Linked DNA regions of Homo sapiens. The protein of the gene in region 2 purifies or fractionates together with the protein of the main gene of each other region. This does not show direct contact. Each region holds a gene or a part of one and is shown on either strand. Other genes may lie near its edges.

Evidence for each region.
Region 1: the proteins of KITLG (region 2) and ATP8B2 purify together in Homo sapiens (affinity purification with mass spectrometry; 3 studies listed by BioGRID and IntAct, with this or other methods). This does not show direct contact.

What each region holds. Positions count from the first base shown.
Region 1 is NC_000001.11:154,332,811-154,348,155, reverse strand, and holds part of ATP8B2 (phospholipid-transporting ATPase ID), read right to left. Parts: intron 14,050-15,345; coding exon 13,891-14,049; intron 13,654-13,890; coding exon 13,565-13,653; intron 10,809-13,564; coding exon 10,612-10,808; coding exon of another isoform or gene 10,482-10,611; exon of another isoform or gene 10,310-10,481; intron 9,413-10,309; exon of another isoform or gene 9,354-9,412; intron 7,303-9,353; coding exon 7,094-7,302; intron 5,677-7,093; coding exon 5,633-5,676; intron 5,361-5,632; coding exon 5,195-5,360; intron 5,044-5,194; coding exon 4,855-5,043; intron 4,704-4,854; coding exon 4,588-4,703; intron 4,264-4,587; coding exon 4,099-4,263; intron 4,035-4,098; coding exon of another isoform or gene 4,014-4,034; coding exon 3,902-4,013; intron 3,784-3,901; exon of another isoform or gene 3,762-3,783; coding exon 3,656-3,761; intron 3,516-3,655; coding exon 3,371-3,515; intron 3,186-3,370; coding exon 3,002-3,185; intron 2,835-3,001; coding exon 2,611-2,834; intron 2,357-2,610; coding exon 2,273-2,356; intron 1,926-2,272; coding exon 1,680-1,925; intron 1,537-1,679; coding exon 1,398-1,536; and 1 more. UniProt on the Homo sapiens protein: Catalytic component of P4-ATPase flippase complex, which catalyzes the hydrolysis of ATP coupled to the transport of phosphatidylcholine (PC) from the outer to the inner leaflet of the plasma membrane.
Region 2 is NC_000012.12:88,563,455-88,578,799, forward strand, and holds part of KITLG (kit ligand isoform b precursor), read right to left. Parts: intron 1,939-15,345; exon of another isoform or gene 754-1,938; intron 1-753. UniProt on the Homo sapiens protein: Ligand for the receptor-type protein-tyrosine kinase KIT. Plays an essential role in the regulation of cell survival and proliferation, hematopoiesis, stem cell maintenance, gametogenesis, mast cell development, migration and function, and in melanogenesis.

The DNA.
Region 1 (15,345 bases), on a different chromosome or scaffold from region 2:
GTTTCCTTTCCCCAAATCTGATCCTGGTCTTTCTCAACTCAGGAAATGCCACAACCCATTCAGTTGCTCCAACTAAAAACCCTGCAATGGATCTTGATTCATTTCTGTAAAAATTTTTTTTTAATTTTTTTTTTGTTGTTTTTTATCTTGATTCATTTCTCTCTCTTCTTTGGACCCCACATTCAATCTATTGGTTCCATTTTTTTTTTTTTTTTTTGAGACAGAGTTTTGCTCTTGCCCAGGCTGGAGTGCAATGGCGCGATCTCGGCTCACCACAACCTCCACCTCCCAGGTTCAAGCGATTCTCCTGCCTCAGCCTTCCCAAGTAGCTGGGATTACAGGCATGTGCCACCAAGTCCGGCTAATTTTGTATTTTTAGTAGAGATGGGGTTTCTCCATGTGGGTCAGGCTGGTCTTGAACTCCCAACCTCAGGTAATCCGCCTACCTCGGCCTCCCAAAGTACTGGGATTATAGGCTTGAGCCACCGCGCCCGGCCTGTTGTTTCCATTTTCAAAACATCTCTGGAATCTCACGGCCTTTTACTCTATTCCGAGCCCTCATTAGGCTCACCTGGTGACTGCTCTCACCTCCTAGTCTCCCATTTCCACCCTTGCCCCCTACACTTTATTATCCACGAAACTGTAAGAGCGGCCCTTTAAAAACATAAGTAAGCTTCTGGTATTTCTCTGCTCAAAGCCCTCCAATGGCTTCCTCTCACATTTAGATTAAAATTCAAAAACTCAAAGTTCTTCCTCTGACCCATAAGGGCTTAAATAATCCTGACTCATTCCACACCCCCACCCTCCAACTCATTTCCTCCACTCCTCCCCAGCTCCACGTGCAGAAGACCTCCTCCCAGGCCAGGGCTGAAGGCCTTTATATTGCTGTTTCCTCTTCCTGGATTGACAGTTCCCAGAGAGCCACATGGCAGGCTCCCTTTCCCTTTATTCAGATTTCTCTGTGCTAGCTGGGCACGGTGGCTCACACCTGTAATCCCAGCACTTTGGGAGGCCGAGGTGAGTGGATCACCTGAGGTCAGGAGTTCAAGACCAGCCTGGCCAACATGGTGAAACCCTATCTCTACTAAAAATACAAAAATTAGCCAGGCTTGGTGGCGTGTGCCTGTAATCCCAGCTACTCAGGAGGCTGAGGCATGAGAATCGCTTGAACCCGGGAGGCAGAGGCTGCAGTGAGTCGAAGGCTGCAGTGAGCCGAGATCGCACCACTGCACTCCAGCCTGGGCAAGACTCCTTCTCGAAAATAAATAAATAAATAAATAAAATAAACAGAATACTTGGCACATAAGAAATGTTGAATGTGCAGATTAGCTGATGGTCCTGTTAGTCCCAGAACAGCTGTGATTCCTCACCGATTCAAGGAGGCCACGGGGACTTACCCACAAACCGGAACTGGTTGGGAAACATGTCGAAGAGCCCATTGCTGTGCATGGCAAAGAGGATGGCAAAGTAAACAGCAAGGCTTCCCCAGATGAAGAAGTGGTTGATGGCCGTCCAGTAGCCTGTGTCGAGCCCAATCTGCAGAAAGTAGGCATAGTCAGGCAGGCGCACGCCCTAAAAGCCCCTTCCCCCAGAAACAGAACTGTGGTGCCCAGGGCAGCCCCAGGGACAGAAGGCTCACTCCTTCCAGAGAAGAGGGGAGTTCCTGGATGGCCTCATACCTGCACGCTAACCACAATGACCAAGGATGTGGCCACAGTGACTGCAAAGGACTGGTAGTCAGCCAGCTGAGTGCCATCATCCCGGGTGGCATCAGCAAACACCCCATAGGGAATGAAGAACATGAGCACGGAGGTGTAGATGCCCTGGGCGATGCAGATGAAGAACTCCCGCTTGTTGAAGAGAAGGTTCAGCTGGCCCGGCTCATACAGCTTAGGGTACTCCATGCTCCGCTGCTCGGGGACATCCTGTGTGGGAGGACCATGTAGCATAGGGGGCCTCAGAGGTTGCCGTTTTGACCCTGGATGACCAAGGGCAGACTCTGACTCTGTCCCTGCCTCCTCCTTTCCAAAGTCTTTGGCAGCTAGAACCAACCTCAAGCCAGCTACCCCCAGACTAACTTAGTTCAGCAACCCAAGAGAGTTCTAGATCAGCTGCAGCCAGGAGGGAGAACCAGCCACACCTTCCCCGGCTGAAAGAACTGCCTTCCCAGTGGCCACAGGAAATGGGCACAAGTGTCACACACCACGTCTATGTGACTCCTTCAAGCAGTGACCTTCCCCGCATCCCATCTGATCATCAAACTCCCCCATACCTGATCAAAGACCCCCATAGCCAGGACTGGCAGGGAGGTGTACACGATGTTATACAGGGTGATGAAATACTGGTCATAGACGGTCTGGAAGAGAACAGGGAGCAAGGGAGCATGCAACCTTTCTTTGCTACACATCAGGCACAGGAAGACAGCTGATGTCACATACAGAGAACCCTAAGAAATTTTCTGAGGCTCCTTCTCTCCTCCTTTAATAAGCATTTTTTAAGAGTATGTACCAGAAAATAGCTAGGCCCTGGGGGACTGAGTGATAAACAAGACAGAACCTCTGCCCTCAGGTTTACAGATTTGCACAACAGTGGACTGGGAACATTTATTACCTGGGCTGAGAAGCCACAGAAGAAGCCAAACCAGAAGTGGACCATGGTGAAAGCAAAGTTTTTGTAGAAGAAATAGCAAAGAAACTTGCACATTCGCAGGTAGGACCAGCGCCCATGCACCAGCAGGAGGCGCTGCAGGAACTTGAACTGGGAGAAGGAGTAATCGGAGGCCAAGACAGCCTGGATCCCTTCCTGCCCACTGATCCCCACACCAATGTGAGCCGCTGCAGAGACAAGAGATGACAAGAGGGTGAAGATGGCCACCGGCCACACACTTTAGAGCCTACCAAGTTACAACCCCCTTCCCGTCATTCTTCTGCAGTCCAGAGACCTCAGTGGGCCCCTCCCCAGCCTCAAGCCCAGCCTACACACCTGCACAGCCCACACTCACTTTTGATCATGCTGACATCATTGGCTCCGTCTCCAATGGCAAGCGTCACAGCCTTCTTGTACTTCTTGACCAGTTCTACCACCTGTGCCTTCTGCAAGGGGGTCACCCGGCAGCAGATGACAGCTTTGCAGGCACACGCTGTCTCCAGAAACTCCAGCTCCATGTCTGCCTCCAGTGCGTGGGCCTGGAGCACAGAGAAACCTGAGAGAGCCAGTCTTTCCAGGAGACACCTGGGAGTCTCAGCTCCTCCCAGTCCCCTTTGAGACCAGTCTTCTCTGAAATCAGGGGAAATTAGAACAAGATATAAAAGCCCTGGACAGAAGTGCTCACTGGAAAGATACTGCCCAAGCTAAGGATAGCGATGCCTACCAGGCTGTGACCATTTATGACCAGGGCGTACTCCCCAGCAACGGCCTCCAGGACAGAAGTTAGCTTGGAAGAAGAAAGCTTGTCCTGATAGGTGAAGCCGTTGCCTACGGAGCGGGATGAGTCCATCATCTTCTCCCGGGCTTTCCTGTCGAGGTGGAAATGATACGGTTGTGGTCTTCCAGAACGGCAGTGGGGAGCAGGGATTCAAGTCTAAATGGTCCAGAAACCCCCACCTGAGCCCTGGGCACAACGCACAGCACCGCCTCCCCTGGGCTTCTTGTTTACCTGAGCTCCTCCCGCACCTCCAGGACAGTATGGCCAGTGACTATGAAAACCTCAGTCATGTCATCCGTCAGCATCTTGCAGGAATAGCCGATGTTCACAGCCGTCTCTACCAAGAGAGAACGCAGGAGCTACGGACAGGCACCCAACAAGGTCAGCACACTTGCCTGCCTGATGTCCTCGGCTCCATGCAAGGGTCCAACAGGGCTACTGTCAGTTGCAACTGGCTCTGCCCTGCTGGGCTCTCACCTTGCTTGTCTCCGGTTAGCACCCAAATCTTGATGTTGGCCAGTGTCAGGAGGGCAATGGTCTCTGGAACCCCTTGCTGAAGTTTGTCCTCAATGGCCGTTGCACCCAGCAGCTGAAAATACCACAAGGATTCCTGGCACAAGAATTGCAGGCATGAGCCCTCCGTGCCCATCCTTGGCCCGTCCCGCAGCCCGTACCATCATGTTGTTCTCAACCTCCTCATAGATGCTAGCCAGCCTGTCCTCCCGGCTGTCCTGGGCCAGGCTGGCCTGGAGGCGTCGCTCAGCCCACTCCTCGTAGTACTCTTCATCCAGATCCTTGTAGGCCAGCACCAGGGTCCTCAGCCCTTCCCCTGCGTACTCCTGGAGGCAGAGTGGAAAGGCACACCTGGGTAAGTCTGGAGAGCTAATGGACAGCGTGAGGGCGACAATGAATAATCCTGCACTGTAGACTGGGTGTGTGCCACATTCCACAGTTAGGGACTGTCACCACATACATAAAAAGAGGTAACTATGGGAGCTGGCTGATGTGTTAAGTTGTCTGACTGTAGTAATCACTTCACTATATATACACATCAAAACATCACGTTGTAGACCTTAAATTTACACAATAAAACAAACTTAAGTCGCCTCCCCCACACTAAGAGTAGAACCCCCCAGGCTGGCCCCTCCTCTCCTCACACCCACATTAAGGTGGTCCATGGTGGTGTTGAGCAGCTCTTGAGTGGAGTGGTGCAGTCTGTCCAGTAGGATAGTGTCAGCCCCTTTGCAGTAGAGTCGGATCTTCCCCTCTGGATTCCGCACTATGAATGGGGCAGGTGAAGAAAGTGCCAGAAAAATTCAGACAGGCAAAGACCCCCAACATAAACACATCAAGAGTCACCCGGCACACTTCACCCATTCCAGGCCTGAATGCTGTCCCCAAACGCCCCAGCACCCCAGGCCTGGCCTCACCTATGACCGACATCCGCTTGCGGATGTTGTTGAAGTCCAGGATGGCCAGCAGCTGGTAGGTGATGGCTGTGCCCATCTCATGGACGGTGATTGTTTTGGGGGTGCGAGAGCGGAAAACAAAACCAAAGTTCCTGGCTGCGGTGACCAGGGCCCCCTCATCTGGGGACTGAGCTTTGTAGTACAGCTCTCCTGGGTGGGGAGGAAGAATACACGTGATATAAGTGGCTTCCCTCAGCCACGTGCCCCGCCCAGGAAGCCCCAGCCCAGCCGCATTGCAGAGCAGAGCAGAGCCCAAGGGCAGAGTCAGGTCAGGAGAGTGCGAGCCGGCTCCTCGGCCCACCTTCGTTCTTTTCTTCTGACATGACAGTATGACACAGGGAAAGGAGGCGGAAGAACTCATGCGTGTGGGGGTCCCCGATCTTGACAGCCTCCAGCAGGCTGGGGTCCCAAAATAAGAACTTCTTGTCAGCCAGAGGATTGAAGGAGAAGTCAACAGGTTCAGGCCTCTGAAACACATAAGAAGGCTCTTAGGAAAGGCTAGAGTGCCAGGCTGCATCCCGGGGAAGGGTTCATCCCTGCCCTCCCAACTCTCAGTAGGCTCCTGTCCACGGTGGACCTCAAAATTTCCACTTCCGTCATCACCAGTTCTGCCTTAAAACACCCATTTCTCCAAGCAGCTTCCATTTCCTATCCAGACAACACATCACTCCTGACTACACTGTTACTGGCCAGGCACCCTGTTTCACTGGCACATAGAATTAGGGAGACTGAATCTTACCTCTCCCAATTCAGCTTTGTGTCCCAGGACGTCAAACACATCACCTACATACAGCCAGGGCAGAAAAAGAAGCAATGTCAGAGCCAGAGAGCTCCAGAGCATGGAAAAACATCTCCAATGCAGAATCCCCGTAGGCACTGAGCCCCTCAACCCTAATCGCTGAGCAGCTGTCACAGTGTGAGTCACTCAGTCACATTGCTGACTCGCGGGATAGGAGGCATCAGGCACCCTAGATTCCAGAACCCCAAGGCCTGGCCATGAAAGAGCCCCGGCACCCACTGCTCACCATCCCTGTCTCTACCCTAGGCGGCACCCCCCTCAGGGCAGCTCCAATTCCACACCTCCCAGGCCTCCTTGCACCCATTAGACCTGAGCAGCAGACAAGGCTCAGACACTGACCGAAAGGCATCAGTCAGTACAGAAAGCAGTCACAAGAGGGGTCCACACTCTGCATAAAAGTCAGCCCCACATGCTGCCCCAGGCCATCCCAGCAGCACAGCCACGGGCCACACTGGGAAGTCCAACCACAGCCACATTCCACAGACTCACAAGGACCCTGAGCAGCAACAGGGGAGAGTCTAGCAGGGTTCCGCCTGGCCAGGATGCCCAGAGGCCAGTGTCTCACTTCAAACAGCCAAGGAGCTCCCCTAATTCCTGGAGCTGAGACCAGGGTCAGGGCATCAGGAGAGGACAAGGGGAGGACTCTCAGAATCTAATTTTTTTTTTTTTTTTGATAGACTTTCACTCTTGTCGCCCAGGCTGGAGTACAATGGCGCAAACTCGGCTCACTGTAACCTCCACCTCCTGGATTCAAGCAATTCTCCTGCCTCAGCCCCCCGAGTAGCTGGGAAAACAGGCACCTGCCACCACGCCCAGCTATTTTTTGTATTTTTAGTAGAGACGGAGTTTCACCATGTTGGCCAAGCTGGTCTCGAACACTTGACCTCAGGTGATCCACTGCGCCCAGCCAGGATCTGCTTCTTGACATGGGACACAGAATGGACCTCTTCTTTGTGTGTGGATTTTTCTCGAGAGACAGGGCCTCATTCTGTCGCCCAGGCTGGAGTGCAGTGGAAGATCATGGCTCACTGCAGCCTTGACCTCCCAGGCTCAAGTGATCCTCCCATCTCAGCCTCCTGAGTCACTGGCCAGCTGAGACCACAGGTGCATGCCACCATACCTGGCTAATTTTTAAATTTTTTGTAGGGATGTGGTCTCACTATGTTGCCCAGGCTGGTCTCGCATTCCTGGGCTCGAGCAATCCTCCCACCTCAGCCTCCCAAAGTGCTATGACTATAGGCATGAGCCACCGTGCCTGGCCAGGATGGACCCTTTCTTCTAGGCCCCTCAGACCCAACTAGGAAGGAAGAAAAAACCAATGTTAAGGAAACTGTGGGGCCCCAGTTCCACTGTCCTTCCAGGCGAGGTGCAAGCCCCCAGTCCCCAGTGGTGCCACCATACCATAGCTGTGGCCATTGATGGAGCACTTGTTGAAAACCATGATGTTCTGGGTGAGGGTGCCCGTCTTGTCGGAGAAGATGTACTCCACCTGGCCCAGCTCCTCGTTTAGGGTGGTGGTGCGGGCTTCTGCAGGCGTCCGCTTCTTCATGCAGAACATCTTCTTATCCCAGTTGATGAAGTAGCTGTGGCCCAGACGGATGACCTCCACACTGCACAGGGGACAAGAGGTGAGGCTTGGGTCGGGAAGAAGAGGAGGTGCCCCACCCACATGGGCCTTCGCTGCAGGCCCTCCGCCTGGGGAGAGACAAGAACGGAGAAGACACCTGGGCACAGAAACCTGGGTGGGAAAGGGCAAGGAGAGCCTGAAGGTGGAGCCGGCTGCACACAGCCAGCAGAGGAACGCCCCGACCCGACCCTCCTGATGCTCTCCAGACAAGAAGGTGCAAAGGGCCTGGGTGGGCAGGACAGACAGCAAAGGAGGAAAAGGGGCTGTAGACAAGGCACTCGGCCAGTTCTTACCTCAGGACTAATAATACAGAAACCATGCAGAGAAAAACAAGAGAAAGTGCCAGAGGGAGGGGAGAGAAAAGAGAGAGAGAAATAATGAGGGTGCTGTGCATGCCACAGCAACACAGACGCCACCTCAAAGAGGGGTGGCACCGGGGAGGGGAAATGGAGAAGGCTTGAAGCCCACTCGTCACTGTCCCACCACAGGCTGGGTGCGCTCCTTCCACCCTGGGCTTGGGGCACTACATTCCTGATTCTGAACACCGGGCAGGGCTGAGGTGCTGACTCCAGAGGGAGAGGGCCCTGGGCATCTGCAGAACACCACCACTTCACAATGGCACAGCGCATTGTGGTGGTTGTTGTTTGCTTGTTTGTTTTTTGAGCTAGGGTCTCTGTCACCCAAGCTGGAGTGCAGTAGTGTAATCATAGCTCACTGTAGCCTCAAACTCCTGGGCTCAAGCAATCCTCCCACCTCAGCCTCCCTAGTAGCTGGGACTACAGGTGCACACCACCACACCTGGCTAATTTTCATTTTTTGTAGAGATGGGATCTCGCTGTGTTGCCCACACTGGTCTTGAATTCCTGAACTCAAGAGATCCTCCCGCCTCCACCGCCCAAAGTGCTGGGATTACAGGCGACAGCCACCATGCCTGGCCCCTATAGTGCCTTTAACATCTCCAGGTCTGTTCGTATCCTCTTCTTTGCTAATCATATGCACTGTTAGCATTTCCAGAAAGGGCCATGTTTAGGTCCAGTGCAGCCGAGCAATGGGGCCCTATCGAGAGCCCTGCTTCCCACCTGACTAAGGCACCTATCAGGATCCCATTACCAGGCAAATGGGAATGTCTTCACATTCCAAAGGGCCTTTTCCTCACACAGCTCTTCAACCCCCTCTTAGCCTCCCGAAACATACACACTGTGACCTGATGAGACTCAGAAAGAAAACTGCTTTAGCTGCTCCCAAGGGCTTCAAGTGAACTGAGATACAAAACACAGATAGCAAAGCCCATAGGTGGGAAAACAAAATTAGGTTGTAAGCACAAAGGCATTTAAATAGTAATGCAGAAGGGAGTGGCAACAGTCACAATGAGCAGGCTACCACCCAGTAACTGTACAGTCACTTAAGTTTAAAATGTATCTTCTAAGCCAATATCTTATATCAAGACATCCTATTAAAAGGTGAGACAAGTACTCCTGTTCCTGTTTCACGTGGGAAAACTAAGATCAAGTGAGGCCCTGAGTGACCGTGGATTTTCCTGAGGTCACATGGCCAGTGAGGAGGCAGGACTAAACCCAGAACCTCCCAACTCTCCTCTTCACACCCTGGAAAAGCCTAAACTATATTCTCTCAGCACAGAAATGCTGTATCTTCTATTTATTATCACCAGCAGTAAGATTGGGGGCTGGGAGAGAGTTGAGGGCTATTTGGGGAATCTGTATGAACAAAAGATGGGAGACAGGACAAGTTTTCAGCACCTCCATAAAACATTTCCTTAAAAATGTCACAGGTTCCCTTATCTCAAGTGCAAGGCACTAAGCAAGAAAGTTCCTTTCCCCTGGCCATTCCTCCTGCCTCGTCTTCCTCCGATCCTCCCCTTCATTCTCACTGGCCTGTCCCTGCTAACATTCTCTTTACCTCAAACATCCTACATGTTGCCTTGATCCTATTCATGCTGTACACTACTGCCAGTCAATACTTCCTAAAGCATTCTTTAGTTTTTTTTTAGAATGCATTTTTTTCTTTTTGTGGGGGAGGGGTTCCAGTGAAAACTGGAAAACCTGCTAGACAAATTCTAAAAGAGCTGTAACACTTAGAATGCATTTTTAGAATACAGAATACATTCTTTTGACTTTCTTCAAAAACTTTTTTGTTTGTTTGTTTGTTTCGTTGTTTTTTGAGACACAGTTTCGCTCGTTGCCCAGGCTAGAGTGCAGTGGCGTGATCTTGGCTCACTGCTACCTCCACCTTCCGGTTTCAAGCGATTCTCCTACCTTAGCCTCCCAAGTAGCTGGGATTACAGGCAACCACCACCACACCTGGCTAATTTTTGTATTTTTAGTAGAGACGGGGTTTCAACATGTTGGCCAGGCTGGTCTCGAATTCCTGACCTCGTTATCCGCCCACCTTGGCTTCCCAAAGTGCTGGGATTACAGGTGTGAGCCACCGTGCCCAGTCTTTTCAATAACTTTTAATGGTTAGTAAATACAAAGTCCACAGGCAAATATTCAAAAGCCTCCACAATCAGGAGCAAGCTATGTTTCCAGCTCTTGCTCTTGGCCCAAGACCCTGGCCAACTATTTCCATAGGCCATTCCCAGGCTCCCATCTCCACACCTTTGCTTCCAGCCCTCTCAGCCTCCTCTCCATTGTGGCTCCACCTTCATCCAGCCCAGTCACCACTCAAAGCCCAGAGCAAATGCCATCTCTCCCTCTCTGCCTACCTGCTTAGGGAGCGACACTCTCCCAGTCCCCGGGCACCCTGTGCCTCCCACATGGTATCTCAGTCTGACACTGTCCAGATCTCCCCTCCTCGACCTATCCATCTGCTGCTGCTAAAGGCAGAGGCCACCTTATACATCTCTGTATCCCCAAGCTTCACATAGAAGACTCTAGGTCGAATTCTACAGCACTGGTTCCTATTTTGTTTTATAATGTGTTTAGATTTTCCTTCCTTTACTAGACGTAAGCTCCTAGAAGGAAGGAGATCCATTCCTAATTCATCTTTTATTTGTGATGGCACCTAGCACACTTCTTTGTACACAGTAGGCATGTAATAAATAGGTGCTGAATAAATCAATATTTTTTTTTCTCTAATACAGTCCCAAGTACCAGGAAACTGTGGTAAAAAGTTTGCTCTGCCCACAAAGATAAACAGATAACATCAAATGTTTACAGTACAGGAAGAAGAGGACTTCTCGTTACTTCTCAAGGACTTCATCTTCATAGAAAAGAAAAGTTCTATGGGACCGCCTGACTCCCTGGAGAGACCCCAGGTCAGAGAAGGCACATACCTGACATAGAGTGAAATGGGCACAACGGTGTTGAGGATGATGATGTAGGACCAGAAGGAGAGGAAGCCAGAGAAGAAGGCACTGTCCACTGCCTCATCCCACGGCAGGTAGACCTGGAAACGCATCCCCACCTCGTGCTCCCAGATGGCATTGCCAATGGCCAGGATCACCCCCATGCAAACCAGGAATCCAAAAATCTGGGGAGGAATGAGAAGCACAGGCGAGGCTGACATGTAGGAAGCCCTCAAAACCAAGTGCATCTGTGATGTATTCATCCCTTGAGCCCTCAAAAGCTCAGATGCTCTAGTGCAAGCTTGTCCAACCCATGGTCTCTGGGCCACATGTGGCCCAACACAGATTCATAAACTTTCTTAAAACACTATGAGATTTTGGTAACAGCTGAATGTTAAATGAAAAATAATTATAAAAAAAAAAAAAACTATTATGGGCTGGGCGCAGTGGCTCAAGCCTGTAATCCCAGCATTTTGGGAGGTTGAGGCGGATGGATCACCTGAGGTCAGGAGTTTGAGACCAGCCTGGCCAACACGGTGAAACCCCGTCTCTACTAAAAACATTAAAAAAATTAGCCAGTCCTGGTGGCACTTGCCTGTAGTCTCAGCTACTCAGGAGTCCAAGGCATGAGAATTGCTTGAACCCGGGAGGCAGACATTGCAGTGAGCCAAGATCATGCCACTGCATCCCAGCCTGGGCAACAGAGCAAGAACCTGTCTCAAAAAAAAAAAAAAAAAAGGCCAGGTGCAGTGACTCACACCTATAATCCCAGCACTTTGGGAGGCCAAGGCGGGCAGATCATGAGGTCAGGAGTTCGAGACCAGTCTGGCCAACATGGTGAAACCCCATCTCTCATCTCTACTAAAAATACAAAAAAATTAGCCGGGTGTGGTGGCGGGCACCTGTAATCCCAGCTACTAGGGAGGCTGAGGCAGGAGAATCACGTGAACCCGAGAGGCAGAGGTTGCAGTGAGCCGAGATAATGCCATTGCACTACACTCCAGCCTAGTGACAGAGTGAGACTCCGTCTCAAAAAAAAAAAAAAAAAATTTATGAGATTTTTTTTTGCAATTTTTTTTTTCTAAGCTTATCAGCTATTGTTAATGTTAGTGTATTTTATGTGTGGCCCAAGACAATTCTTCTTCCAATGTGGCCCAGGGATGCCAAAATATTGGACACCACTGCTCTAGTGGAAAAAGCTCAGAACTGGTGACAGGTTCTAGTCTGTCACCAATTATCATGTGGCCTTCTGTCTGACCATTATTTCATCTATATGATGAAGAAACTGAAATAGTTGATTAGCTCTCAATCTGGCACCTTGAAACCTTCCAGAGTCCTCAAAGTTGGTAAGAGTGGGGATGAGCTACTTTTAACATACCAGAAAACTTACTGTAAATAATCTATTCACCTGGGCTAGGTACAAGCCAACAAAAATGCCAAGCCACGGTAATGTTCACTATCTCACATAGATGGCCTTTTTTTTTTTTTTTTGAGATGGAGCCTTGCTCTGTCGCCCAGGCTGGAGTGCAGTGGCGCGACCTCGGCTCACTGCTGCAAGCTCCACCTCCCGGGTTCACGCCATTTTCCTGCCTCAACCTCCCAAGTAGCTGGGACTACAGGTGCCCGCCACCACGCCCAGCTATTTTTTTGTATTTTTAGTAGAGATGGGGTTTCACCATGTTGGTCAGGATGGTCTTGATCTCTTGACCTCGTGATCCACCCACCTCGGTCTCCCAAAGTGCTGGGATTACAGGCGTGAGCCACTGCACCTGGCTAAGATTGCCTTTTTTTTTTTTAAACTTGGGAAACAAACTTATCTTCATAAACGTAGATTTCTTTTTTGAAACAGGGTCTTGCTTTGTTGCCCAGGCTGGAGTGCAGTGGCATGATCCTAGCTCAACGCAGCCTCAATCTCCCAGGCCAAGCAATCCCCCCGCCTCAGCCTCCAGAGTAACTGGGACCACAGGTGCATGCCACCAAACCTGGCTAATTTTTCAGTTTTTTGTAAAGACAGGGTCTCACTATGGTGTCCAGGCTGTTTTCGAACTCCTAGGCTCAAATGATCCTCCCACCTTGGTCTCCCAAAGTGCTGGGATTACAGGTGTGAGCCACCACTCCTGGTCTAGATTTCCTGATTAGTCAAAAATCTTATAAATTTTGGAGTCTCTGGAGAGACTGGTAAAAAACCAGGCCACTGTCCAATTTCCTACATCTATTTCCAAAGCTGCCTCCGCTGTTTAGGCTTTGAAACAAAATAGGAGATTGGTGCCCAATGGCCACCAGGGGGCGACTGGAGCCCTTATGTGATAGACAACCTCGCCCACCAGGCTGGGTTTCCGCACACTCTTTAAAGCCAGGGCGGAAACAAGCTCACCAGAGGCTAGCCCCAGCCTTCACAAGCTGGCATGTGGCGGGCAGGCAGCAGACAGTCGGGGCACAGGAAGGGGAGGAGAGCCCAACAAGGAGTTCAGATTTCTAGCTAAACAAGAGAAGGATTCAGGAACTGCCAAAAACTTAAACAGAAACTTTTCCTTTGGGATCCTTCGTTCTTAGAAGTTGGGGGGAAAAGACCCTGCCAACCTCTTCCAAATGGAAATTTTTCTTTTAATTCCCTCTCCATCCCCATGAAGGCCTCCTTGTCCCTGGCAAAAGCAAACAGAAGGTCACATGCTTCACAAAGTCATCATCATAACTGGAATCAGAGAAGGGATGATTTGTTTTAGCTTTAAGTTGTTGATTCATGCACGTTCCTGAAGTTTTTTTAAATAACATCTTCCAACTAAAAGGAGCCTAAAATAAACACTGCCTTTGTGTAGCTGACCTGCTAGCAGCTTTAAAGCCAAACCTGAAGTCTACTGACCAAAGAAGAAAGAGGAAAGGAAAAGGAGCACCCAAGGAGAAGAGAGGGCAGGGGCAGGGAGCCAGATGTGGGGCGCCTCACCCAGAGCACCAGGGTATTCATTAGGCGATCGATACTCGTTCTTTTGAACTTTGTTCTGCCGCTGTTTTGCATCAGCTTAGTGTCGGGACCTGGAAAAGAATGGGAAGGGCTGGGAAAGCCAAATAACACATCTGCCTCTGGGCTTCTGCCCTGATCCCCAGACTGCAGGACACCAGGGTGGAATAGAGATACTGGCTAGATAAGAAGCCTGTATACACAGCTGGAGGTTTTTTACCTTAGGTATTCTCCCACCTCATCCCATACTCCTGAGTGAGGGCTGGCTGAGTCACTCTTACCCTTCTTTCTTTGGATGCTAGGAGGCTCACCTGCAAAGATGACCAGCCCGAAGCACCACTCGGTGTTTCGCAGCACACAGCCCCGCAGCAGCATGTTCTGGTTGCTCAGAGGGAACTTATTTTCCTTCCAGTAGAGGGTTCCGCTGAATTTGTCCAGTTTGTTGTTGGGAGGTTCACAGATCACTTCACCTGAACAGGAGACAAGAATTCCACTGCTTAAGGTCCAGTCTACAGCCTAACCACAAGACAATAAAACAAAGAGAAAATGAGCTGAGCGAAGAGGATGCAAGGGCAAGGGCCCATCCATATGCTGCTGGGAGGAGTGTGAGCTGATGCAACTCTTCAGGAAAATAATGAAGCAGGCCGGGCGCGGCAGCTCATGCCTGTAATCCCAGCACTTTGGGAGGCTAAGGCGGGTGGATCAGCTGAGGTCAGGAGTTTGAGACCAGCCTGGCCAACATGGTGAAACCCTGTCTCTACTAAAAATACAAAAATTAGCCGGGTGTGGTGGTGGGAGCCTGTAATTCTAGCTAATCGGGAGGCTGAGGCACGAGGATCGCTTGAACCTGGGAGGTAGAGGATGCAGTGAGCCGAGATCGCACCACTACACTCCAACCTGGGCAGGAGTATTTAAAAAAAAAAAAAAAAAAAAGCTGCAGCATGACCTAATATTTGTTTGTACAAACATGTATGAAAAGTGTGGATGAGCACACACTGACTGTCAATTAATGTGGCTACTTCAGCAGGGTAGAAGAGGAAGGAAGAGCTATTTTCTTCTTCTTTTTTTTTTTTGAGACAGTGTCTCACTGTGTTGCCCACGCTGGAGTGCAGTGGCCCGATCTCGGCTCACTGCAACCTCCACCTCCCAGGTTCAAGCAACTCTCATGCCTCAGCCTCTCAAGTAGCTGGGACTACAGATGCACACCACGACGCCCGGCTAATTTTTGTATTTTTTTTTTCTTTTTGAGACAGAGTTTCGCTCTTGTCACCCAGGCTGGAGTGCAGTGGCACGATCTTAGCTCACTGCAACCTCCGCCTCCCTGCAACCTCCGCCTCCCAGGTTCAAGGGATTCACCTGCCTCAGCTTCCTGAATAGCTGGGATTACAGGCATGCAGCACCACGCCCAGCTAATAATTTTTGTATTTTTAATAGAGACAGGGTTTCACCATGTTGACCAGACTGGTCTCGAACTCCTGGCCTCAGGCAATCCGCCCACCTCGGCCTCCCAAAGTGCTGGGATTACAGGCGTGAGCCATGGTACCGACCTCTATTCACTTTTTCTTATACACTCTGTATGGTTTGTCTTATAAGGAACACATATTATTATTCTGAGCTAATAAGCTAAAAGAATAAGCTGAATTTCTCTCAACATGCATAGCAAGTGGGGAGCTATCAGCCACAAAGTCCCCTTGAAATAATTATAAACTCAAAACCAAGAGGGAGCCACATGACATTACAAACACTCCCCTCCCCAAAACAGTCCA
Region 2 (15,345 bases):
CAGAAAGTCGCATGCCAGACTACTCATGAGCTGATTCAATGACACTTCATCCCTCCCCCAAAATAGGCTGCATCATCACATTTTCATGCTAATAATCATGACTAAGTGGCAAGCTCTTTTATTCCAATTGTTTATCGTGAGATCCATGGAATTATCCTTAGCATTCTCTCTAATACCATTTTGATGTAGGAGGAGACTCTAAATTCATTAAGAAAGGAAGATGTGGCCGGGCGCAGTGGCTCACACCTGTAATCCCAGCAATTTGGGAGACCAAGGTGGGCGGATCACCTAAGGTCAGGAGTTCGAGACCAGCCTGGCCAACATGGGGAAACCCCACCTCTACTAAAAATACAAAAAATTAGCTGGGCATGGTGGTGGGCACCTGTAATCCCAGCTACTAGGGAGGCTGAGGCAGGAGAATTGCTTGAACCCGGGAGGCAGAGGTTACAGTAAGCCAAGATTGCACCATTGCACTCCAGCAGGGGCAACAAGAGCAAAACTCCATCTCAAAAAAAAAGAAAAGAAAAAAGGATGTAGGACACAGTAAGGAAGGAGATGATTTTTTACAATGTATCAGGATAGGAGTACTGGCATCACACTTGTTATTGTTATCTCTATTTTAGAAGATTCTGACTTAACAGTTTTCTCGGTAAATGTAAGTTATTGTGCATTCTGAAATTCATCCTCATGGTAGACTTGGGAAGATTATTTTGCTTTCAAGTTTAAAACAAAAGAAGAATATAGGAAATGTACCTTAAGGCCTCAAGTCTTGACTCTTAATAATGCTGGGAAAATACAGAAAGAAACTTTCTTCTTGGAGCAGAAAAGGGGGAGAGTGGGTAACCATTTCAAGGTAATCCTTTGAGCTTCTTTTCAAAGCAGCTGCTTTGCTGAGGAATCAGAAGGGGATGGAAGAACAAATGTAAACAGGGAAACTGGATAGCAAAGAGATTTTCTCACCATATGGGAGAGAATAGGGATCTACTTCCTCAGGAAATGAAGAGAGGGACTCGTGAGCAATATATTCACTAAATGAAATTTAAGATGTACTTCGGCTGCTGTATGTTTTAAGTGCCAAATCTGCACAAACCATTTTGTACATCTACTTCATTGCTCACCATTTGTGTGTTATCTCCTCTTCTTTATGGTCCTTTTTGGAGCTTTTCTTTGCAAATCAAGGCAGAAGGTAGACTTTGTGATATAATTATATAAAACTGGAAACATTTTATTGGTTCAAGAAATGTTAACTTTTCAGATCTACACCCAAAACCAAGAAGCTTACCTGATTAAAAAAAAAAGGAACACAGATCATGCTCTAAGTTTGTATCATTTTAAACACTTCAGAATTTTTTAAACTTGGCATCAAAGAGTATCCCCAAAATGATATATGTTTTTAAAAGTACATGCAATATCTGTAACATTATTTTAGAGCACTGTATTGTAAAGCAGTAGTATTACTGCCTTGAGTCACTAAGATGATGGCTTCTAACCACACATGAAATTTGAAAACATCACTTCTTGTTAATCCTTCTCCAACTTTCTTCCTCCACGCTTAATCTCTGATCTTATGTATTGAGACATTATTTTTGCTGAACTCCTTAACCATATCTGTTTTAAATACATAAATATCATTCTAATAGAATCATCTAAACCCTCTCATATTGTCATATTTCTGTCTTTCAACTCCTTTTAGACAAAGACTATACATCTCAGTATCCAAAACTACACAACATCCTTTACTTGAGTATTGCACTAGCTACCTATTAACTAGCACAAATTGTTAACAGAATTTTAAAGGAAGCATCTTGAGTGTGGGTGAGCTGGGAAGGAAGAATCCATTTACCATATTTGTAATAGTCTCATGAATTATTATGTATCAAAAAAAATCTCGGCTGGGCACGGTGGCTCAGGCCTGTAATCCCAGCACTCTGGGAGGTTGAGGCAGGCAGATCACGAGATCAAGAGATCGAGACCATCCTGGCCAACATGGTGAAACCACATCTCTACTAAAAATACAAAAATTAGCCGGGAGTGGTGGCACGTGCCTGTAATCCCAGCTACTCAGGAGGCTGAGGCAGGAGAATCACTTAAACCTGGGAGGCGGAAGTTGCAGTGAGCTGAGATTGCACCACTGCACTCCAGCCTGGTGACAGAGCGAGACTCCATTTAAACAAACAAAGAAACAAACAAACAAAATCTCTAGGTGAGAAAATAAAATGTCAACAGTACTAATACTAAGCAAGAAATTAGGAACAAACAGATCAGGTTTGATGACTGAGAGTTGTAAGATGCTGAGAAATTTGCTCAACCTCTGTGAGCTCAGATTCCTCCTCTTGTATCAAATGGAATAATCACACTACCACCACCCTCACAGGTGGGGAGAATCAGGAGACATAAAGTATGTAACACATTTAGCTCAGGACCTGGCACAGAGAATAAGCATCGGAAATCAACATTTTTCCTCTTCATCATCATCAACAATATTCTGCCCTAAAATCCTTTCTGGTTCTTAAGTCTTCATATATCTGGCATTAGCGAGTTTTAACTGGCCCTTGTCATTCAGCCTATTGTGTCATTTCCTTAAGAATGGCAAGCAATGGCCTCACCTTCTCCTTTATTTATTTATTTATTTTTAATTTACTGTCTCCATTCTCTTCTACCACCCAAAGTGGCTCATTTATCATTTCTCTCTCTGAGGAAAATTCTGTTTGAACAATGTATGTATGTTTATACAGGACAGTGTTACATGCAGTTTCATGTGTCTGCTGAGGTCAGCAGGCACAAAATTGTCAAATGTCTGGATCCATTCTTAGAATGCTGACAGGTGGATGTTGTCCCTCAAAGAGACATTTGGCATTAAATTCATAGTTTAGTTCAGAAAACCTTTATCAATATTTTGGCACTGTGCCACTAGCTAGGGATACCAGTGTTAGACAACTTAGCTAGGTAAGTAAAAAAATAACTTCAATATAATGTGATAAGTGATATGATTGTTTTTTTAAATGCTACAGGAGCTCAGGGTAAGATCACTAAACAACATAGTAGGGAGAGGGGCTGAGGAAAAAGAGCAAACAAAAGTCAGGGAGGACTTCCTGGAGTAGAGACCATCAAAGCTACCCAAATGCGAGGCCCTCAGGGCCTTGGAAACCAAGTGCAGCAATATTGGTATGTCATTGTACATAGTTAGGTGACGCTGGAATGAAACTTACCACTCGGGAGTGGTGGAGATAAGCAACAGCCAAACCACAGAGGACCTTGTATAGTGTGCTGAGGGTTTGGACTTTATCCTGAGGGTAATGTAAAGTCGGTAGAGGATTTTAGCCAGGGTAATGACACAGTCAGACTTCTGTTAATAACTCTAGATTGTGTGCATTAGAAAGAACCTTTAAAATTATAGGATCTACCCCTACATTTTGATGGACAATAAAATGGACATCCTGAAAGCTGCATAGCAATACAGTACCACATACATGAATTTAGGACATGGATCTCCTGCGCTGTCAGTAAGTTCTTGTTCTGACTTTCCTGTATTACTCCTCAAATGCTAGGACACAAATCTTCAGGGAAAAGTGCAAAAGGAATTCCTTTTTAAATCTAATTCTGTTCCTAAGCAATTCACAAAAATTACACATGTCAGTGTTTCTACTACATTCTCCTTTAGGCCTTAAAAGCAGGGACTTTAATATATATATATTTGTTTTTCTTTTTCAATATCTAAAAGAGATTTCTGCATTTTAATATTGGTTCAAAGTGTTGTGTTAGATCCCACTCTGAACTGAACCCAAAATTACTTCCCACATTTTCCGGCTTGGTAAATTAATCACTGTGGTATCCACAATCAAAGATTCAATCAAGAAACTTCCAGAAAACCTTTGGAAACAAACTTTGTATTACAAAAGAGTTATAAAACAGGAGCTGTTTTCTCTCTTTCACAAGTGTTTTGAACAAATCAGCACTCCATCAAAAAGAACATAACAGTTTAATGTTCTGTCAAAGAATGGAATGCTTGTTTACCTGAAGTAATGGACTGATAAAAGTAACTTGCATCTGTCTTGATTGATACAAAACTTACTCAAAGATGAATCTGGACAACCAAGCCCTTAAACTAAACAGAGTCACTGACAAGAAAATAAAACCTGAATTCATAATGGAAACATTTCCAAACTGTTGATTCTATAAAGTTATTAAATTCAACACATGCAAAAAAAATAAAAACAACAAACGAACAACCTTTGAATGCAAAACTGCATTTTATTTGAAAGGAGCTAACATTTACCGAGGTTTTCTGGTACCTGTCCTAATGCCCTTCTTATGCATTAGCTCATTTAATCCTCACAGTCACCTTAGGACTTAGACACTATTATAAACCTCATTTTACAAGTGAGAAAATCAGAATGTTATCCGAAGAATCAAGTGACTCAAAGTCATACAGTTTGAAGAGATGATTCCAGATTTATGAGTCTCCAAAGCTATTCATGATCATACTATACAAAAACTAATTTGAGGCTCATTTTAGAAGACATTAATAAACTAAAGTTTTCATGTACTTGGAAAATTTATATTTTTTATTGCTCAAGTCTGAGAACAATACAACAACACTAGGCCTCTGAATGGACAGTATAGTATGTAGAGCACTGCTCAGTTAATTAACTCTCTTGACTTTCACAACTTGTGAGGTCGCCAACATGTGTCAACATCCTTACAGACACAGAGCAGACAGTCTAATACATACTGATGTGTCTGCTGGCATAATCCATTCCCTAAAGCTTACAGATACAATTTATTGAGCATCACTTCTGGGTCAGACAATTTCCACATATTATCTCATTTATTTATTTATTTATTTATTTATTTATTTATTTATTTATTTTATTTATAATATTTTTGTAGAGACAAGGTCTCACTATGTTGCCCAGGCTGTTCTCAAACTCCTGGGCTCAAGCAATCCTCCTGCCTCTGTCTTCCAAAGTGTTTGGATTGCAGACATAAACCACCATGCCCAGACTATAATCTCATTTAATTCTTGTGTTCTTCCAACTATGTACTATTACCCCTACAACCCCATTACACCAATGAGGATATTGGGGCCTAGAGGAAGGAAATAAATATCATGTTGTAATCATAATAGTGGAGCTAAGATTTAACTCTCATTCTGTCTAACTCCAAACCCCATGCTTCTTCCAGTCTACACAAGGCCAATGAGCCAAACACTTTGAGAAATATAATTTACTTCTTAAAATTAGAGCAGGAAACCGTGTTAATTCTGAAAAACATTGTTTTCTAATAGTACAATTATTTGAGTGATTGTGAATCGTGATTACAAATTAGGTATATAACATTATTTCCAGGTTTTTAAAAAAAAGAAGGGAAAGAACAAGGAAAGAAGGGAGAGAAAAAAGAGTGAGGAAACAAGAGAAGGAAGCTGCAAAGTATTATTCTTCCATTTTACAGAAGTTTAAGAGAAGGTTAAGGAAAGATAAATAAATTGCCTAAGGTCCCATGTCAAGCTAGAGTCAAGAGCCAGAGGTAAAATCTATATGCTTTTGACACAAAAGCCATGTTCTTTCCATTTTCTTTTGACAAGTGGCTATATTTCTATGGATGCTGAAAATGACTTCACTCATATAGGGAAAAGTAGGCAATCACTCACTGATTCAAAATGGGAATGACTCATGTTCTGTCCCCCTAATTCCAGGTAAAGCAAAGAGCTTGGGAATGCGAGCTCTGAATCCGAATCTGTTTCATAAGCCAGCCACCACATATTGGTGCCGCGATCTTGGGCACATGATAGAAAGAAGTAACTTTGCTCTAGGTAAACTCTTTTGTGATTCTAATTATACACATTTTTCTTTTTCAGTTTTTGTTTTAAAAAAAGAATAAAAACAACTACATTACTCAGGACAAAAGTGAATTTGAGGCTGGAGTTACTTGGATAAATTGCTTCAACTTTCCCTTTCACTCTGGTAGTGGAGATTTTGCAGTTAAAGTCACTTTCTTTAAGAAAGGAGCCATCACTATTGATAAGCATTACATTACCATTTGTTTAATGGTAATAGCAAGAGTAAATGTTTATTTAGTATTTTCTTGGTGTCCAGCACTGGACTAAGTGCTTTTTTGTGGATTATTTCATTTTATCCTTATAACTACCTATGATAAATGTACCATTGCTCATTCTGTTTGGCAGATGGGGAAATTGAGGCTAAGAGGTTTTCGTTCTTAGGCAACCAAAGCAGACCATCTGACTGCAGAGTTTGGTTAAGCACATCTCTGTTCTGTTGTCTCCTTTACCTGTGTTGAGATGATGCCAGGACTTTTTAGCCAACATTTTCATTTGTACTAAACTGCTATTGAGTATGTTACAAGGTGATGCTGCTGATAAGGTTGTGCTGACAATCACCCATTTAAAATCTTGCGATATTAATGCAGAAAATATTTTTTTTAATATTAATGCAGTTGGATTGATAAGAAATGAACAAAACAAAGGCCACAATATAAATGGCTGGTAGCTTTAAAAGCCAGACATAAACGACATTATTATCAAATAATTTCCTAATATGATCACAGACATTTAAAACCATCTTCCAAAACATCATGTAAAGAGGATCAGAGCAAATTGATAAAAGTACTTTCTGAAGTATCTTTCTATTTCCAAGAAGTTATTTTGAAACATAACTTTAAAATATTTTAAAATCTGCCCTCTGCCAACAAAGTACCACTTTATTTGAAAGACAGAAAGCTTTTTGGCAATGAAGTAATTCCTGATTCCATAAAGTAAGACGACATCTTTAGAGTTTACAATGAGATTCCCTCACAACAGTCAGATGAGTCAGGCAAGGGGTTTCCATTTGACTGCTGGGGAGATGGGTGGGAAAGCCTGATGAGGAAACCCAGGCTCCCTGACCTGTGGGAGTGTTGCTCACATACAGCCATTTACACTTCTGGTAAGTACTGAGGAGTGTGGGGTCAGAAGCAACTCATCACTCAACCAGAGGACTCAGCTTTGCCTGCTCTCAGTCTTTCTGGTGTAAAGTTAAATTGCATCTTCTTCTCCACAAATAAATTAGAAAAAACAACAACAACAACAAAAAAAAAACAAAGAAGTTCAACCCTTTCAGTTTGTATGTGTATGCATGCGTGTCTATATTGGTGCATTATATTGTAGTGATTAGAAGGAATCTGGCCTTTAGATTTAAATAGGCTTGGCTTCAAATACAAACTCTTCCACTTGCACTTTTTAAATTCTCATTTTGGGCAAGTTTTCTTAATCTCTCTGAACTTCAGGGTTTTTATTTTTCTTTGTTAAAAAAAATGATGCCAAATAATAATATGTATTTTACAACATTTTGCTACAATCGAATGAGATACACTTGTGCAGTTTGTGGCATGGTGTTTCACCCATGGGGAGTAATTCACAGTTATTAACTTATTAATTTGTCTTATATTTCCTTATTCAGTAAGCTGCTCTTACTTCTTAAACAGCTTGTCTTTGGCCTACTTTGTTATTTCTTTTCAACAGAAAGGGGAGAAAAGTAAAGAAGATAAAATTGGGAAAATTTTCTAAAAATTTGCTAAGGGTGTTTATGAGTGTCAAATAAGATAGATAACGTATAAATAAGAGAGTTAAGCTATTAGTCTCTAAGGATTGGTTTTAATTTTTTTATTTATGAAAGCCCTATAGCCAAAGCCAGGAATTACTAACACTGAAGTTATTTCTTACAGCATACAGATTTGTATAATGTTCTGTGTGATTTACTATTCTTTTAGAGAAGGAAACAATGCTCTATTAAGTAAGTGCCAGTTGCTGTGATGTTAGACAGTCTATCTCTTTTAATTATCACATCAATACTACTACTAGGTGGTTACTTCTGTGCCCATTTTAAATATTGAGAAAGTGAAGTTCAAAGAGAAAAACTTACTGGGGTTGGTAAGTGGCAGAACCAATACTACATTTGATCTATATCCATTCAAACCTTTGCTATTCTCTCACATTGTCTCCAGTTTCACTAAGTAAATGATGTTATGCATTCACTGAAAATTAATGCTGTAAAATAGTAAACAAAGTAGCCTTGCCAGTCATGCACCAAACACATTTGTGTGTATAACAGACCTAGCACAATTGTTAAAATTTTGCCATTAGAAAAAAGGCTTATAAAAAATGTATCAGTATCTAACAACCTGAATTAGGTCTCCATTCATTTCACAACATTCCAAGTGTATTTACTGAGCAGTTGGCAGGAGCCACTCTTTGAGGCAACTGCAATCATGAAATTTTTGTTGTCCAAATTCTATTACTGGCAGCTTTTTTGAACATCTGAGTTGCATTTGTTTTTGATTCAATGTTCATGTAAACAGAATGCATATCTTTGAGGTATTAAATAAGCCACACTAATGCGCTGTGGTTAATGCCAGCTGAGTCTCTTTTGCAATAAACACCTGGGATTGGCAGGAGAAAGACCTTGTCTTAGTTTTCCTATCTGTGAAATGGGGTTTAAAAAAATAATAACTACCTCTCAGCGGAAAAGTGCTGTGAATTAATTAATCTTGGAACTGTTTTCTACTAAGTGCCATTTTGGCATGATCTATTATCAGGATGGTTTGATTTTATAATATAATGATAGAAGCTATTTAAAATGGCTACACATTTAAATGCCAAACACTTGACACATAGTACAGTAAATTTCATCTCTTCAAGTTGAATCATTATGTGTGACATTTGTACAGAAGTGCAAACAATAAATGGTCAAATCAGTCTTGGATTTAAAAGTCTCATTATTGAAAAATATAAATAAATAAATGCAAACGGCTTAGAACAGGTCCTGACATTGTGAGCATTATATAAGGATTTGCTAGTATTATTAGAAGCTACTTATAATTTTAAATTAAAATTAGCTACAGTCATATGTGTATCTATATATGAAATAAATCAAGCAAGCCTAATAAATGCCTAAATACATTTTTTTCTTAAAGACCCTAGTTTCATATTTTAAAAAAAGGTACATTATTTTTAAAGTATTATTAAAGCATAGAGTACTGTGGCTTCAGTACATTACAAACAGGAAGTAAAGTTTTAAAAACACTTTTCTGGGCAGGGGCTAAGAATAAATATAAATATGTACATTATATATATATTATATACATTATTATATATATATATATATATATATAATTTGTTACAAAGATATTGGAAGAATTATGTAAGCCCTATTTTGTAGTTCAGTGCTTTTCTACATACAATTAATGTCATCCAAATAGTAAAAACATTATGCTAATAATTTCCTCTGAATTTTTCATGAATGTTGCCTAATCCCTTTATTATCCCCTCATTTTGTTTAGTTCCCACTTTGGACCACCTGGAAGTAGAAAGCACCAGCCATTCTCCTATACTGTGATAATGTATCTTTCAAACAGCAGAATGACAAATGTGCTAAGGTCAGTCCTCTGACTAACAGAGCACATCAAAGATTTATGAGTAGGGCCCACGGAATACAGCAGTTTTCTAAAGTTGCGAGAAATCCAAACTAAAGCAATCACAGAGCTTTTGGTTGTTCATCAAAAAAGGAAATCCCTAATGTGTTTACTATTTCAGAAGCGTTAAATTGTACATTTACACAGAACCATAAATAATGATGTATGACTGCTGAGGTCTGTGTTGCAATCCTTGGGTTTTCTAGATCACATTAGAAACAATTTTATATGAAAACATCTCTACCCTCCCTTCTTACCACTCCTCCATCTAGAGTTCTGCAGTGAACATGAATTTTAACAGCCAGTACATCGATATGGATAACACATCCAGGAGGGTGACAAGGCCTTTATAACAAAGCACACTTTCTCTGTCACACTCTTCTTGGAAGCCAAAGAATCTGTGTGTTTTCCCAAGGCAGTTGTTTGGGAAGGCACTGAGAAAGGAACTCCAAGTAAACAGTAGAAAACTCAGCACTGTAGGGCCCTAAGAGGTTCCTTCACAATAGACCACCATTATTCAGTTGTATTCCTTAGAGGCAACCTGGTTCACTGCCACTCAAATACTCACATTTAGGTGAAACAAGCCAATAATGAGATGCAATTCAGCCCTGGAGCAGAGTGAAGACATTGAAAGGGAAAGGTCCTCAGCTTTAGGGATTTTATGTCAAGGTGAAAAAGAGGGAAAAGTTCTAAGCACTCACAGGGCTTATGTTCAGCAGATGAACTTCTGCTCCTGAAAAGGCAACACAGTATGGGCATACAAGACAAACACAACGCCCCCCTCCAACCTGTGCTCTTTCTTCCCAGGTTTGCACAGGGATGCAATTATGCAGTGGGGATGCCCTTTCTGCAAAGGTGAACAAGGCTTGCTTTTTCAAGTGAGCACCGATGAGTTTGCGGTGGTCCTTTCATGTCCTTTTACATGGTCACCCTAAAGAGCAAAGGCATTCTTTGTGAGCAACAGACAAAGTTTGAGCTGCTGTCTGTGTACCTGGAACACAGAAAAGGCTACCTTATTGCCCCGCTCCCTCCCAATTTACCCATGTTCTAATCAGCAGCATTCAAGAGCCCCAGGGCAACAGCTACAGGCACAAAGTCAAGTGCTGAATTTCTGCATCCAAATATCCCAATAATAGCCATTGCTACTTTTTTTTTTTTTTAAATTTTCTAGACTATTGCCTCAATTCTAAACTTTGTTTTAGTGGATAGCTCAGTGGGCAATGCCAGTGATTAGAGAAGAACATTATCTTCATGGTTGTGGCCCTGTTTTCTGAGAAATGTGTGTTCTCCTAGCTTGAGGAGGGTCCAGCTGATCTTGGAATATTCTCATGTCAACAAGAAAAGACTGCCATAGCTTCTGACTGCTAAAAGAAAAAAAAAAAAAGAAAAAAAGAAAAGGGCTACGGCTAGCTGCTGGGTTTGCTCCAGCTCTCAGCTAAGGAAAGGAGGTAAGCAAGCACTGTTCCAAGGATGGTACTGGACCCAGACAAAAGCCAGCCAAGGAGAGATTTGGCATAGTATCATCTGCAGGAACTGCCTTTCCCTGAGGCTCCCTCCTCTTTCCACCTCCGTGTCTCCAGCTGCAGCCTCTCATCTTCACTATCTTCTCAGGATTAACTATCTTGGGCATGATTCAGAGATACTAAGACTGGGAGACTAGTCCAAGGTCACACATCTTGAGGCAGAGCAAAGGGTAGGATCAGTTCCTCTGATTCTCCCCTCAGTGCTCTTTCTACTACATCATCAGATCCCTTCTTGGTTTTCTTTCTCCATTTCAACTCCATGCACACACGTACTGGAAGTTAAAGGGACAGAAAAAAAACAGGCAAATACAGGGAAGCATTACCTTTTGTAAGCTTATCTCCTCTGGTTAGCTGACTTTATCTTAGAATTCTTTTTCATAGAACTTAAAAATTTAGAACAGAGAAAGTAAAGATCCTCTTTAACTATGGATTTTGCTAAAACAGGAAAGTGTAAATACCATTCTTTTTACAAAGAAATATCAAGCAGTAGGTGAAATGCATAAAAGTAGAACAGTCTAAATTTAAATCTCCTTCATTTCTCCCCATTGGCTTATTCATAATCATAAAACAATGGTTATAATGTGCATTCACACTGAAGCAATGGCTGCATAAATCTGAGAACTGAAGGAAGCTTAAATACCATCTGGTTCAAATATCTATTTTACTAGTACTTTAGAAATAGAGAATTTTAGAACCAGAAGGCACTTAGAAATCACCTAGTCTCACTTACTCATTTTACAGTTGAGCAAACTAAGATCTGGAGTTCAAATAATTTCCCAAATTACTACTACTTATTATCCAGGTTAATAAAAGAAATCAGCCTCCTAATATCCAAGCCAAAGTGGCAGCCTACAAAAATAGTAAAATGTAGCCAAAGGACAAAGACAGGTACATAAAGAACAGTCTTCCTTTAGATGACACACATTATGATTTTAAAGAAAGAACCATGAGCCCCAACTATGAGAAAATCACTCCCCCACCTCTTTTTTCTATAGAGAAAGAAATAGGTAGAGATGAGATCATGACAATTCTCTTAAACTCCCAGCCCCTGTAAACAGTTTTTAGTATACCCATAATTAAGTGAAAAGGCAAACACATCTTGCTGCATCTATAAATCAGAAAGGCTGCAGTCAATTGTTTCTATGAAACAGAGCCTATACAAAACAACCCTGAAAGCAGCATATATTATAAAAATATCTTGGTGTTCCCTCAACTTGTTTTGTAAATTGTTCTGTCTACACACGTGACTAAGACCAAGAACAGTGTGTAAGACCAAGAACAGTTTCTTGCAGCTGCTCATGATTTATGTGCTAGAAAGAAAGATAAAAGATCACTCTTCAGAGATTTATATCCAAATGCCTTGCCCTAATTTACAAAAGGGAATAAAATTTACAAAAGGGAATAAAAATAATTTACAAAAGGGAACATTAAGATAATCCAGAAAAGAAAAATAAAAGTCTCAAACTAGCATAATGAAAAAAAAATGTCACTGCACGTTGCCTGGTAAAGACAACAAAGACACCCCACAGAAATGAATGCATGGCCTCACTCAGAAAAGCAAGTGCGAGAACATTAGGGATGGGAAACTAACCAAGTCTCTTTAGTCCAAAATAAAATAAAATAAAATGAAATAATTCCTTAGAATCATACAAGGAGAACTTAGCAAGAGTGTAGAAATATGAAACTGAGTCAGCGATAAAGATAATATTTCCATTTTCCATTTCTATTTTCTATTCTAATTATCTCATTCATTTGTACTTTAAAAGAAAAACCTTCAAAAACGTAGCACCTCTTAAGCCCACATATCACCTTTGTCTTCACATATTCCTGGATTGATGTGTCTTAATTATAGTCTATAAACAGATATTAGCCTATCATGGGAGTCACCAAATCGACAGACGTAGATTTAGGAAAACTTGGTCTCTGTGCTTGGTTCATTAGGCATAATTTACCTGCAATAAGTCAGTTTTTCTCTGGCTTGTAAAAGTAGGCCAGCAGGCACTCTCTTCTCAGGAACAATAAATTCAAACTGTACATATAGTAAGCTACTATGCTGGTATAAAGACACATATAAAATTTCATTTAGTCCTTAAAACCACCATGCGAGAAAAATCTTTATAACTTTTATAATCATCATACAGATTACAAAAAACAGAAATCCCAAAAAGTTTAACAAATATTTGCCTAAGGTCATTTGTCTCATGAGTAGTAAAACAGGAATTAGAATCTAAGTCTTCAGAAGCTAGAACCTAGAATCCTTCTACCAACCATATTTTAGGTGTTTCTCATATATGCTCAGATATGGTTTATTCTCAGATATAAAGCGAAGGCCACATGTAGTGGAATTTGCCAATCCATGTAAAAAACCTCCAATACCCACACTTGCTATTTGAGTGAGAAATTTTTATGTGATTTATGGTGATGGAAACATTTCAGTCACCTATTATTAAAAAAAAAATGTGACCCAGAATTTGCTATCTTCAAATCAGCAGTTAGACGTAAATAAAATTTAGCAATTTTAATTGGTTTGGCCCAGACTTTCAGATTTCCATATGGTTATTTTCCTTGTTTTATGTTAAATGTAATCAACTTAGCACTTGGGTTTTAAAGTCTTGGCAGAATGTATCAATTAAAAGCTACATAAATTGGAATTATTCAAAGCATACATTCCAAATTGAGTGATCTTAAGGACAAGACTAAAAAAATGCTCTTTTCATAAGTATGTTAATTTTCTTCTACAAAGTAAACTTGCATCATCACCCACATGACAAACTTCATACAGACATAAAAGAGATATTTTCTTTGGAGTAGTGAAAATTAGCATTCTATTTGCTTATTCTCTGAGAGTTAGTATGCCTAAAATGGCCTTTTTTACATTGTTTGCAAGATCAATCTTTCTTATCTCAGTATTTCTGAAATTGACAGGAGTTATGACACTTCTCACAAACCATCCCCAAACTAAAATGTAAGCACAACATTGATAAATGTAACACCAGGCACATTAAGCTAATGGCACTTTTAACCAAATCTTAATCAGTGTTGCAAAATATGGTGCCTTGATTGTTATCCAATATGGTGTATCAGAATATTATGTTTAAAAAATAGTTACACATTGAAAGAGATGTTTTTTCTAAGCCCAAGCCACAAACACCTCTAGAAAACTGTAAAACCACACAATCTGAATAAAATAAAATCAAACAGAAATCTGAAAAATTCAAAAGACATTCATTTCTGTAGAACTGTGCTTAAATTTATTGCCTGTGTCATTATATTGGAAATACTGAAGTGTACCAACATGCTAAATGAATGAATCATTCATCAAACCCCAAGTGGTTGTTGATGGAATTTTCACACTTACTTAGCTTGACGGAAAGGCCAGAATACCTGGAGTCCCCATGATTCTTGGAGAGCTGTGTAATTCAAATCAAACCCCATTTTAAAATATTACTATAAATTTTTTTTATATGTGGGGTAGTAGGAGAGTACAGAACAAGTTGCTTTATAATAGAACCATGGTATTGATGCCATGTTTATAAATGACTATTTAAACTACTAAATATTAATAGATATTCTTCCCTGGTGAGGATAACATTAGAATCAGAACAATCGATCCTATTTCTTAATGTCCAATTTACATAGGCTACCTTCCATCCATGCAGCATTGCACAGAAAATGTCTTTGTAATTTTTGGATTAGAAAATTTAACAATATGAAAGATCTAATCCCCTCCTCCATTTCTGCAGATTATTTTATTGATTTTGGGCTATTTCCAGTGTCCCCTTTTTCAGTGACTGTGGAATCGCTAGAAGTATTCTTAAAAAAAACCTTGAAGGTCATTAGATCCTAGGCAATGAATGCCTTCATTCAACAAGGGTACTGCCCTCCTTTGCCTACAAGCCGTTTAACATCAGCAAGTTCCCCCAAAGGGCCTGCACTTTAACTTGTGTGATGTGTGACCGAACAGGTCACATATCTAAAATACTTAGCTTTCTCAAATTTCTCTGGTCGGCAGCACTGAGTCACTAATGCCACAGTCACAATGTTTCAGACTAGATTGACCTCTTTCTAGTTTTCAATGGAATTATTCCATGTAATCCGATTTACACAGCCATTTAATCAAAGCGAGAAAGGAGATTACAGAGCTCACATTTGTTTTGCAAAGCAAGGGTGCAAGGATAATCAATCCTACTGCCTCTCAAAGTGACTTGATAGTACATCCCCTGGCTTTGGAGTGTTGGACATTAACCTTATCTGTCTCCTGTGTTCTTGTTTAAATAGGAAGGTTTAGGCTCTTTTCCTGAACTAGAAGGTAGCAGCTTCTTCCCCCAGATCTCACCACCATCCATGGGAGCAGATG